Linked DNA regions of Homo sapiens: all the other regions are linked to region 3. Evidence: fine-mapped expression QTL. A gene starts in region 3. Each other region holds a variant in brackets. All regions are shown on one strand. Distances are between the middles of the regions.

Evidence for each region. PIP is the estimated chance that this variant, and not a neighbour inherited with it, causes the effect.
Region 1: its variant is the best candidate, but not a certain one, in a credible set for the expression of PUDP in tibial artery (GTEx, PIP 0.84).
Region 2: its variant is the best candidate, but not a certain one, in a credible set for the expression of PUDP in B cells (CEDAR, PIP 0.52).

What each region holds. Positions count from the first base shown.
Region 1 is chrX:7,010,256-7,014,498 of GRCh38, reverse strand. LOC107987331 (a long non-coding RNA gene) reads right to left here and starts at 2,000. Exons shown (of 3, transcript XR_001755781.2): 1 at 1,844-2,000. It also overlaps a transcript of PUDP not described here. The variant G/C (reference allele first, on the strand shown) is at 1,891.
Region 2 is chrX:7,238,149-7,242,391 of GRCh38, reverse strand. The region is part of intron 2 of STS (steroid sulfatase); the gene reads right to left. Among named protein-coding and RNA genes, the nearest start is that of PUDP, 92 kb to the right of the region's middle. The variant C/TAC (reference allele first, on the strand shown) is at 1,861.
Region 3 is chrX:7,145,828-7,150,070 of GRCh38, reverse strand. It overlaps PUDP (pseudouridine 5'-phosphatase), which reads left to right and starts at 1,918. Exons shown (of 4, transcript NM_012080.5): 1 at 1,918-2,018. The coding sequence starts at 1,958. STS (steroid sulfatase) reads right to left here and starts at 2,359. Exons shown (of 11, transcript NM_001320752.2): 1 at 1,988-2,359. MIR4767 (microRNA 4767) reads right to left here and starts at 2,211; the gene lies at 2,134-2,211. RefSeq lists an enhancer at 1,439-1,488 and a silencer at 1,679-2,398.

The DNA of each region.
Region 1 (4,243 bases), 140 kb after region 3:
TTCTATTGCTAATTCATCATTACCAAATTAGATGCTACGAATTGGCACCCTAGTAGATTGAGTGCATTCACTCCTACTTTCCAACCTCCAAATTCTGGGTTCATGTTGTGACCACACATTCATGAAATTGATATGGACAGGAGACAGGGAAATACTGGGTAAAGAAGGCAGTTCCCCAGCAAAGTCCCCACCCTCAAGCCTGGAGACCCGCGGCCCTAAGTGGGAAAAGTTGCCTTTTTGCCTGCCATGTCCCCCTATCCTGTACCCATATAAACCCCAAACCCCAGGCTCCAGAAGCAGATGAGGAGATGAGGAGACAAGCAGACAAATGGCAGATGACACGGCAGAGAAAGAGAGAAGGGAAGGAACGTGTGAATGCCAGGAGTTAAACTGGGGGTGGTCAGAGGGAATTTTGGCTGCTGGATGACCAAACTCCAGGGGAAGATCATCTTCTCACTCCATTCCCCCTTCCAGCTCCCCATCCATCCTGCTGAGAGCCACCTCCACCATTCAGTAAAACCCCACATTCATCCTTCAAGCCTGTGTGTGTGACCCAATTCTTCTGGGACACTGGGCAAAAGCTGGGAATACAGAAAGCTGTCACACTGGCCCTCTGCCCTTGTGAAAAGGCAGAGGGTCTATTGAGCTGGTTAACACTTAAGCCATTTGCAGACAGCAAGACTAAAAGAGCATTGTAAACCTTAGGCTGCAGGCACCCCCCCTCCCCAGACACTACTGCGGGGCTGGAGCCCAAAGCACTCACTCCAGCCCCCGCACCTGCCCATCTGTGTGCTCCATCTCCCATCAGGGGTTTGAGCGACCAAGCGGGCGAGCCACACGCCTGTTGCACTTCCTGTGAGGTGGATCAGGGAACTCTCCTCCTTCAAAATGGCTAGTGGTAGATATGGAGTATAGATTAGAGCTTACATACCAGGGCCAGCACTCTGTTTTAATCAGTTTTAGCTCACCGGAGACACTCAGCAAAGCTGACAACTTATTCCCATGACAAGAGATTCCCCAAATCAGTATTCCCAAATTACCACCTTTGCTGCAGAATCATAGCATGGAAAACCAACCTATGCTTGCTATTCTAATTATTTTTCTTCTAATTTCATCTCTGGTTGTTGGCCTATTCCCTTGAAGTTGATATTGGATTGATTAGATCCCGGATTCTAGGAGTAGAACTTTTTAAAAAGTCACTCAATTTTATTCCCTGGAAAACCAGTCCAAATCTCAGTCATCATTTTTCAGGACTGCTGAATGACATGTGTGCTTTTCTATGCCAAGTCTCACCGAAAAAAAGAAGCTTTTGTTAGCACTGGGTCAGAGCATTCACTGTGGTATTATTTTTAACTTCCTGTGCCTAGACACATCTTGAAAACTAATCAGGAATAAGCCTTTTGAGTTCTACCTTTATTTTATTCTTTAAGCATTTAATGGAATTAGTCATTGAATTCTATATCCTCTTGATAAATCAGTCTCCAATTACAGAAATGAAGAAAAAAATTAAGAGTGAACTTAATGCTACTCACATAGGGAGGAAATTACACCCCCCACCCCCACTACCATCAGACATTTCTATTTTATTTTCACAAATGACCTTTCTCCATATTGCTGAATGGATAATACTTTTAACAGAAGAAAATGCCTTTGAGATCAACAGAGGACATTACGTTTCTGATGAGTTAGGAGCAGGACTCCTGTAGAATAACTCTATACATCCAGGAGCAACCCATTTGCAGAGAGAAGTCAAGAGAGTTCCACGGTGCACTCAGGTCTGAGTGGCATCATCTCTCACCAACCTGTAACGTGTGCACCATCGACTTTGCACATTGGCACTTACCCATAGTCCGCTCACTGATGTGCTTCTGCAGGTTTAAAGTCCCCTCA[G/C]TGAGAGAACAAGAGGATCCCTTTTCTTCCTAATCTAATCCCTTCCCATCACCCACCCTGCCTTGCTGGGATCAGCAGCTACTCTACCGATGACTCTGCCAAGCAGAATGAATACCTTTCATCTGAGCGTGCGGCAGTGACTCTCTCAGCAAAGAACTCTCTATCCTTGTGGAGCCAAGGGGATCTCTGTAAAGAGAGAGCTATCAGGAACATGTGTCCAGGGGCTAAAGATATGAGGCTTTAGAAGAGAAATGCTTGTTAGTTTCCAAAGATAAAATCTCAGCAGCTTGCTAATAATATTTATGTAGCACCTAAGTGCCAAAAGCTCAAAGCTTTTTTCTCCTATAATCACATAACTGGGCTGGCATCAAAACACGTCTCCAGAATGGCTCAGGGGTATCTATTATCCCCATTTTCTCACAAAGGAAACCAAGATAAAAGGTTTAAATGGTTTTGCACAGAGGGACAGAGAAGACATTAGAAGTAGGGTCAGAAATAGAAGAGAATCACTCAATTTTTACTCTAACGGTGTTATACAACTCTCTGAAATAAATAAATGCTTTGATGTGCATGTTTATATACACAAATCATACACACTTCTATTCTCCAACTGATACAGTTCCTTGATGTTGTAGTATTTATTTCAAAACATAAATGATCTCAATGAAAATACCTTAATGCTAGTGCAAATGCTAATCTTGATATGAGCCACAGGTTCATAAATCAGACCATAGCAATCAAGTCTTTTCTATGGATGTTGTTTCCAGAAGGTAGGTGCCTACTCAGTTTCTTTTGAAATTGTGTTTAGTTCTCAAGCCCTTGAAGGATCCAAGAAATTGCTCTAGAGGAGGTTAAAGTGAACATGCTCTGACGAGGAAAGCCATGGATAGAAACCAAGGTGGAAGAGCAATGTATAAATGCTACCGGGCAGTTGCAGGGGTGCTGCCTGCTCCCCACACCTTTTCTTCCCCAGGCATTTTCATGTCTTCATGCTGATAGAAAGTCCCCTGGTAATGGCATGAGCATGGTGATGTGCATAAGTAGATGGCTTGTGACTGGAGGAAAGAATGGCAAAGGAGCTATGCTTTCATGAGGGAAGGAAGGAGGGAGGGAGAGAGGGAGGGAGCGAGGGAGGGAAGAAAGGAGGAGAGAAGGCAGGAAATGACAGAGTCAGCATACAGTACACTGTTGGGTATTTTCCACTACCAGACACAGTGTACAAATGCTGTTCGTCATCCTGCACCCTCTGTTACTATCTTAAATCTCTAAACGAAATCCAGAACCAAGTGGGCTACTTCCTAACTGATACCCATGATTTCATGGAGAGAAGATTCTGTTGTTTTGCAAGCAACAAAACTGGAGGGAAGTAACGATATTGGAAGATAGCTAGGCAGTTCATCTCACTATCATGAGGACGTCCCCATTGTCTGCAATTGGCCTTGTCTCTCATGGGTTCTTACAAACAAGAGGGAGAAATGTACTCAATATCTCTACAATTTGGTTAATTAATAATCATGGTAGCAATCAAATCCAAAGGGCACATTTGCCCCAATCATTACCAACCCGAGATGTTTCTAATGAAGAGCCTTTAGAACCTGGGTTGAAAGTAGTAATTGATAGTTGAATGGCCAAGGCTTGGCACTGGTTTTGTTGAAGACATTTAATCAGGTCCGACTCCAGGTTCTCTGTCATAACAGTGCTCACCCTCTTGGATTGTGCTGTGCTGTATTGAATAAAGGAAAGGGTCAGAGTGAGAAACTGTCATCCTGTACCCATGAGGGGATGCCAGGAAGGCCGGGCTGGGCACATTACTGAGGACAGTGGGCTTCAGTCTTGGTTGCATGTTCAATGAGCCTGGGGAGATTCCAAACATCCTGATGTCCAGATCTCACCCCATAGCATTACACCAGAATCGTGGTGGGTGGGATTCAGCATGGGTATCTTTTATAGTTCCCCAGGCAGTTCTGGTGGGTGGCTAAGTTTGAGAAACACTGCTGCAAGGACTTTACTCTGCTCTTTGTCTCTATGGGCATCTTTTGGATGAAGATTTATGGACATTGAATCACATGAGTCAAAAATTGTGTCTCCCATAAGAGGCTCTGCACATCTGCTGACAGACCAGTGTATCAAGTTTAAGACTTTTAAAGGGGCTGTTCATAACAATCTGCCCTTGGATTCAGAACTCTTGGTACAGCATCCGCAGTGGTGCAGCATCCACAGTGGTGCAGTGTCCATAGTGAATGTGTAACATGGTGTGTGGCCAAGATGGTAGAGAGTCTTGGAAATCAAGCCCTGTGAAGAATGGATGAAGATGCAGAGAGTGTTGGGCTCTAGGGACAGAAGATTTGGGTAG
Region 2 (4,243 bases), 92 kb before region 3:
TGATTCAGCAAGGGAATCATAGTAAGAGGCCATAGTTGTTCATTATAGTTATTTAATAATATTAAGTTATTATTAACTTATAAAGTTATTATTAAAATTACAACTATTAATAATAATAAAATGTTATGTAGAGTATAATAAGTACACTAATAGAGTTTTGAACAAAAATGTGGTCAGCCAACTAAAAGTGGCCCCAGTGACTTCCCTTCTGGTATTCACATCTGATACAATCGCCTCCTGTTGAGTATGGGCTGGACCTAGTGATTTACTTCCAATGAGTAGGATATGGAAAAAGTGATGAGATGTCAATTCTGTGATTGGGTTGTAAAAGACTATGACCTCTATCTTGCTGGCAAACTCTATCGCTTGCTGGCTGTGGATGAAGTAAGTGGCCATTGTGGAGAGACCCATGTTATAAGAAAAAGAGAGAAGTGTCCAGCCAACAGCCAGCAAAAAAAAATGAGGCTTTCAGGTGAACATCCTGCAAGGAACTAAGTCCTGCCTGCAACTATCTGAATGAGCTTGGAAAGAGATCCTGCTACTTTTGGACCACAGATGAGACCACAGCCATGACACCTGAAGTAGCCTGAAAGAGACGTAGAAGCTAAGGAGGATCCAGCTAAGCTGTGCCCAGATTTTTGACCTACAGAAACAATGAGATAACAAACGCAAGTTGCTTTAAGCTGCTAAGTTTTGGGGTAATTTGTTACACAGTAGTAGATAACTCCAATAGCTTGAGGTGAGAAGGTCAATTTTGTCAATGAGGACGAGAAAAAAGCTCCCCAGGACAGCGGCTCTGAAATGTCATGTTGAACTTATTTTAAGAACATGTTTCATTAGTAATGAGTCTCAGAATTTATATAAGCAATTTAAGGACACATGTCTCTGCTCAGCAACCATGTAAAAATGAATTTTTGTTTTATAACTGAAAGTTGAAAGCACCTGAATTAGAAAAGGGCATTTAGGGTAGACCAAAGGGAAATGGCTAAAAAAGAGATTAAATAGAGCAAAATTCAGGCTCTATATGAGGACTAACTAAAATCTCACCAAAAAAACCTAGCTATTTAGAGACCTACTTTGGACTATTATGCTTTGTGATTTTTGTACACAAAAATTGATTTTTTTAAATAAATGTTTTGTTGTATTTTTACTATTATAAATGTACAAAAGAGAAACATCAACCAGCCACTCAGAGAGCCACTCAGGTAATATGTGTGTTTCTCTCCATGTTCTTTGTTTTTTATCATTATTGTATAAGTTGCTGATGTTGCAGTATTCCTACAAACTGTGCGCATTGGTTGGTTGGTTATTTTTTCCATGCAAAAGTCTGACTGTGAGGTGGAGAAGAGGTCAGGATAAATCATCGTGATCAGACATGGAGGGCATTTATCTTTTTCCTTTCTGTTGTTTTAGGTTTGGGGCATTTATCTTTATCCAGAAGTGATGAAGCAGAGATTGAGGACACTAGGGATGACAGGCATGGTTTCGTTTCACTCCCGCAGGCATTCTGGTTGCTCCCTGGCAGAAGGGTTGGGCAGAAACTGGAGTGGATCGCACGACAATGGCCATAACCCCCCAAGGAAGCTGGTCCAGACTAGCACAGGGGCAGGTGGGAGAGAACTGGAGAGAACTGAGCCGATTTGAGACACAATCAACATGAGCTGGTAATTGCCTGGATGTGAAGTGTCAGAAAGAGGCAACAGTCAATGATGACTTCAGCCTTGTTCCTTGGAAAGATACTGGTCCCATTAGCTGGGTAGGGAACAATTAAAAATACTGGAGGATTAAGATTATGAATTTGTTCCACACCAAGATGCCATCATAGAAGGGATCCATTTTATATATATATATATATATACA[C/TAC]ACACACACACACACACACACACACACACACACACACATACATATCTGTGTGTGTGTGTGTGTGTGCGCGCGCGCTCCTTGGAGAAGATTCATTTCCATTTTCTATGCTTTGTGGTAAAAGGGTTAGTTCAGGTGCAGACCATTTTATTGAAATTGAACACAATAGGATAAAAGCCCATTAATAATTTTTCATGCCTATATTAATCTCTGAATCACAAAATGATTTTGGTTAGCTCAGCATATCATTCATTATACCTCCAAAATGTGCCTGGAGGTAGATATTATCAGGACTAGGATGAGAAATACCATCTAGCCCAATTAAGAATGTGTGAAAATTTAAGTTTGTTAAGAGCCACTTAAGGCTGGTCAGGGTGGCTCACACCTGTAATCTCAGCAATTTGGGAGGTCAAGGCAGGTGGATCACTTGAGACCAGCCTGGTCAACATGGTGAAACCGTGTCTCTACTAAAAGTACAAAAAATCTGCCGGGCGTGGTGGTGCTTGCCTGTAGTCCCAGCTACTCGGGAGGCTGAGGCAGGAGAATCGCTTGAGCCTGGGAGGCGGAGGTTGCAGTGAGCCGAGATCGAGACACAACACTCCAGCCTGGGTGACAGAGTGAGTGACACTCGGTCTCAAAAAAAAAAAAAAAAAGCCACTTAGAATCCCACTGTATATAAATTATTACCAGCAGAAGTAAGTGGACTTTGCTTTTTCTTTCCTACAAGCCTGGCTTACAAGAAGGTATTGATAAAGAGGTTTCAAAAAACTGAAACAGAGTCAGTTAACATAAAAGTACTTAAAATTAAATAAAGCTGCTCCACTCCAAAATATTAAGAACATGGCACATTAACTTCTGAAAAACTGCATAATTTTCCCTTTAAAAATTATTTTTCTGAACAAACTTAATTTGGCAAAAGAGCACGAAAAACTTTTTTTGTGGAGAAAGCAGCTATTCCTACAACAGCATCATTAGGAAAGAGAGAGACAAAGGAACATTTTTATAACTAGAGATGTAATTATATTAAATTTGTTCATTAGAAGAAAATTAACAATGTGCTTACGTAACAGAAACTTTAACCACAGCAAAGAAAATGTTCCTGATCTATTTGCTCGATGGGGAAGAAGGCTTATTAAAAACAGAGAAAAACTTGCACGACAAACAATATTTTTTAGAAGAAAAGCAGCTTCGTTCAATCCAAGGTATGTACACTGGTGAAATTTGATTCACAAAGTGCTATTATCCAACAAAGGTCCTGTTTTAAATCGATAAAGAAAAATAGTCTGACATGAGGACAGAAAAAACCCATTCTGAAATTGTGTCTAAACAGACTTTTCTATAGATTTAAATACCTATTTAAATCACTTGTGATTTTTCTAAAATAAATGTTCATGTTTTATTGATTTAGCGAATCTGTTTCTATCGACTATACAACAGTACCTGGTGCATTGGTCTTTGTATTTCTCAATACAATCAATTATACCTAGTATAGTTGAATTCATTATAATATACATTGAGTATTAATAAAATACTAATTAAAAATTATGTTTAAAAAAGTAAGCCTTGCCTAACCTGTTTGTTTACATTTGAAGTCTTTACACTGAAGTCTTCACTTAGTGAAGACACACTAAGTGTTGCATGTGTGAAGATTCTATTGGTTCCTGCTGATTTTTTAATTTTTTAAATTAAAAACACAATTTTTAGAGACAAGGTCTCACTCTGTCACCCAGATTGGAGCACAGTGGTACGATCACAGCTCACTGCAGCCTTGAACTCCCCAGCTCAAGCAATCCTCCTGCCTTAGCCTCCTGAGTAGCTAGGACTACGGGCATGCACCACCACACCTAGCTAATTTTTAAAAAAATTTTTGTAGAGATGGGTTCTCGCTATGTAGTCCAGGTTTATCACAAACTCTTGGACTCATGGAATCCTCCCACCTTGGCCTCCTATGTAGCTGGGATTACAGGTGTCAGCCACCACTCCTGGCTTTCCCCTTATTTTCCCCCTTCTCTGTCATTGCTCCAGTTGATGCATCATGAGATGGAGGGGAGGACAATCAGCAATGGATCCAGAGATGGTAGCTGCCATCCTGTTGCTGCTGCTAACTAGCTGTCAACATTTGGACATGTCACCCAGTCTTTGCAGGTCCCTGTTTCTACAGCTGTACAATAAAAAGGCTCCTATCATGTCTAAAACCCTGTGATGTTTATGCTTCTATAATCTGATGCTTTTTCTCTGAATCTACCTGGAGCTAAGGAGATGGAATCAATGTAAATGTCCATCAACGATGACTGGATAAAAACAATGTGCTATCTATCTATCTATCTATCTATCTATCTATCTATCTATCTATCTACACCACGCATTGTGTGTACACACACACACA
Region 3 (4,243 bases):
GGGAAATACTGTCATACTTACTGTAGGTACCACAGCTATGTGTGTGCAATGCATCTATTATGGAATTGTGTTCCCAAAAATATATGTTGGAGTCCTCATCCCCGCTACCTCAGAATGTGACCTTATTTGGAAACAGGATTTTGTCAGAGGTAATCAAATTAAAATGTAGTTATTAGGGTGGTCCTTAGTCCAATAAGAATCGTGTTCTTATAAAAGGAGAAAATTTGGACACAGAGACACACACAGAGGGAAGACGATAGGACAAGATACAGGGAAAGGAAAGCAGGTTCAAGCTGAGGAGAAAGACCTGGAATAGGTCCTTTCCTCACAGCCCTCAGAAGGAATTAAGACTGCTGACATCTTGATCTAGGACTTCTGGCCTCCAGATCTGTGACACAATACACATCTGCTGTTTAGGTTACTTAGTCTGTGGTATATTACTATGGCAGCTGTAGTAAACTAATACAGAAACCACGAACGACTGTATTTGAGGCGCAAGTCCCTACCTAATTTGCTCATAAATTGCCTTCTCTGAAATCCCGTGTCCTCAAAGGGAAATCACGATTGCATTAAATGGGGGAAGCTCTCTTATAGTACCACCTCTAAGAACACATAATTTTATTGACTATATATTATGCACTGGTACTAAGGGCTTGGCCTGCCTCACCTCCTTTATCACCTCCATTTTACCCAGGAGGAAACAGACACAGGTGCACTTTGTCTATCATAGATAATAATTCTTGCTGAATCCAGGCATGCCCCTGTCCACTATGTCTGCACTAAACTAGAAATACACTCTCATGTTTACACCTTTTTTTTTTTGTCTTTTTCCCCTTTTGTGGAGAACAGGGTCTCGCTATATTGCCCAGGCAGTTCTTAAACTTCTGGGCTCAAACTATTCCCCCAACTCCCACTTCTGCCTCCCTAAGTACTGGGATTACAGGTGTGGGCCACTGCGCCCAGCACACCCTCACGTTTTTAAAGTCTTGAAATTCTCCTATTTCCGCTTCTCAAAAGGTCCAATCCTTTTCCTTAAACGTGAATATACCACATAAACGAACACGAAATAGAAACAGGGACAAAAAAGTATTTTTTTGACGATGGCAAACGGGAAAAAAAAAAAAGAAAGCTGTTTAGGTGGCATTTGAAAAGTTAAAAAAGAAAGAAAACTCAGAGCAGCCCAAAAGACAGATGATACCTAAGAAGGCACAACCAGCAAGACATGTTGACTGTTAGTATTATTTCAGCATCCTCCTTGAGCAGCTTGGCTTTGCTCTGGGACAATGCACCAGCCTGGGATGCTCAGAGATGCAGGCACGGAGGTTGTGCAGCCTCTCCGCACACTGCGCATGCGCGGCTGCCGGTTCAAGTCGCGGTCCAGGACCGCAAGGAGGCGGGCAAGCGAAACTGAGAAAAACCCACCCACGGTCCAGGGACTGGGGGCTCGGGCGAACCCACCCAGGGACCTCCTGACCAAGGCCATTTGTCTGCAACCTGATGGCTAGAAGTGATACCACCCTGAGCATCTTCAATCCCCTTTCCCCACTCTACAGCCCCTTGTACTGTCCCTCCTTCCTCATTCACACCCCTGATCCAAACTCAAGCACTGAATTTGTCCCCAGACGAGGGCCTCGGCTCTGCGCGGCCGCTGGCTGAGTAGCTTGGCCCGATTCCGGGTGTGAAGTGAGGAGGAATTGATGCGGGTAAACATACAGCGCCGGCCCGCGCCGCATCCCGGGTCTGCAGCTACAGCTGCGGCGAAAGCCCAAGGTGCGCGTGCGCGGAGCGCCACTAGGCAGCCCAGGACGCGCGGGCTCGGAGCCGGGCGAGGGGCCGCGGAAGGCGCGTGCGCAGAGCGACCCCGGGCGCGCGAGAAGGTCCTCAGTGCGCGTGCGCGGGGCGGGCGGGTGCGCGCGCACTTCCTCCTCGCCCCCACCCAGACCCAGAAGGCGCCACCATGGCGGCGCCCCCGCAGCCCGTCACCCACCTCATCTTTGACATGGACGGACTTCTTCTGGGTGGGTAGTGTGCAGCCGCCGCCTCCAGTAAGGGCGGTCTTGTGTGGGCGTGGGGACGGTCGGCGCGGGGTACGTCACGGCCTGGGGGCCGCGGCGGGGCGGTGTTCATGCAGGGACGCTCGGGCTCCCGCGCGCTCTGCCCCCGGCTGGCCCCGAAGTCGGGCGGCGGCCAGGAGCGCCCGCGGGCCCATGTCCGGGCTGGCGGGCGCGCGTGGCCGCGGCGTCTACGCGGCCCCAGCACCCGCTTCCGGTCGGCGGCCCGCGCGTGGGGCCGGAGCACGTGGGAGCAGTCCCTGGGGTCCACCGGGCGGGCGCGCGGCTCCGCGTCCTCTCCTCAGAGCGAGGCGCGGCGGGACCTCCGCGCTCTCTTTTCGGTTACGCATGCGTGCGACCTTGAGCGGTGCCCAGCCTCAGCTTCCCCGTCTGCAAAGTAGCCTGGAGGATACTTGCCTGCCTGCTCCAAGGTTGCTGCTGTGGGCGCACTTTGATGGTAGCATCCTGCATGGTAGCGGTTCTCTACCTGGCGGTTTTGCAGCCCTGAGGGCATCTGGCAATGGCGATGTCAGGAGACATTTTGGCTGTCACAGCTGGCGAGGAGTGATGGGGTCACTGGCATCTAGTGGAGTCCAGACCAGTGATACTGTTAAACTTCCCGCAGTGCACAGGAGTGCCCTATGCAACCATAAGGAATTATCCCGCGCCGTCAACAGTGTAGAGGCACAGAAGGTCCGTCAAGTGGCCTGGCTGCCTAGGGTGACCAGCACCGGGGACATCACCTGTGGGCTACTTGTAAATGTAGAAGCTGGGGCCCCACCCTACCCCTGCCCAATCAGAATCTGCATTTTAAGCGCGTGAACGTTTGAGAACAGCTGCTCTATCAATCCGAGGCATTAAGAAACCCTTGGCAGTGTACTAAGGTAGTCAGTCTTAGCACATGTGAACTTCACCAGCCAAGAGGAATTCAAGTAGAATTCAAAGAATAAAACCCTGTTTTTAACTCAAGACAGAACTATGCTGAGCTCTACCGAAAGCCTTGACACAGTTAACACTATGACACATAATCACCAGGAGGCTTCATATATCTATAAACATGTCTGCATACTCTTTGTAGACAGCTGACCTGCTTGGTTACGTATATCATTCCTTCATTTCAAAACCCTGCAAGTTAGGAGGAAGTATTTGCATGTCACTAATTAAAAAAAAAAAAAAAAAAAAAACCCTGCAGCTCAGAGAGGTAAAGCTACTTGCCCAAGGTCACACAGCTAATAAGCCAAGCTGAGAAACGATTCTGGATTGATCCAGTTCTAAATATAAATGATGTTGAGCTCATCTTAAATTGTGAATGTGACCTTGTTTCTGCTCATCATATTGCTGGGTAATTCCCTAGCAGTGTTTCCTTTTAAAAAGGCATGCAGAAACCATTCTCTTCATTTTATGAACACAGAGGTGTAAACTGATGAATTCCAAAGGAAAAAAAAAATCCCCGTAGAGGTCACTAATTGGAGCCAACGGTGTATGCAGCTACTAAATTTGAAATGACTCAATTTCAGAAAGCTTGTGGGATACATAGGTATAGTTTGTAGACATGAATTTTCCTACTCCGGTGGTCAAAAAGTTAAATTGTCAAATAAATTTCTTATCCTCTAATAAAGGTCCAGAGAACCTGTTCTGGGAGTCTCATGAATTTTAATACCAAACAAGATGTCTCATTAAAATTAAATTTATTAAACTTCTAAATGAGCTTGGTGCCTAATTCTGATTCTAGATTCACACATAGCCATGCCCTGAAGTGATGAATGTGACTTAAATGGCATTACAAGCATTGACCTCACATTGTTACCCAATCCTCTGATCTAGTCAGATAACCAAGAATTAGTGCTATTTGGAAAAATAAGCCCTGCTTCTTTTTATTCCCCCCCCTCATTTTCTGCCCATTTCCTCCTTTCCTGCCCTACCTCTTCTTTGAGGTGGTAAGGCCTTGCAAAACTTTCTTGGAAATATACCTTTGTTTATCCCATTCTTTCACCAAATGTGTAAATATAAAACACAGCTTTCCAAGATGTGCCACTTTAATTTAATCTACCAGATTATGCCTGCTGTCATTCTTTAGCACCTCACTTCAGTGTATCTGTTGTTTGCATAACAATATACTATCAATTTATAATGAGTTATTTTACAATAGGTCTGTTTTTCGGGAATTTTGAATGCATTTTTCTAGGAAGTTC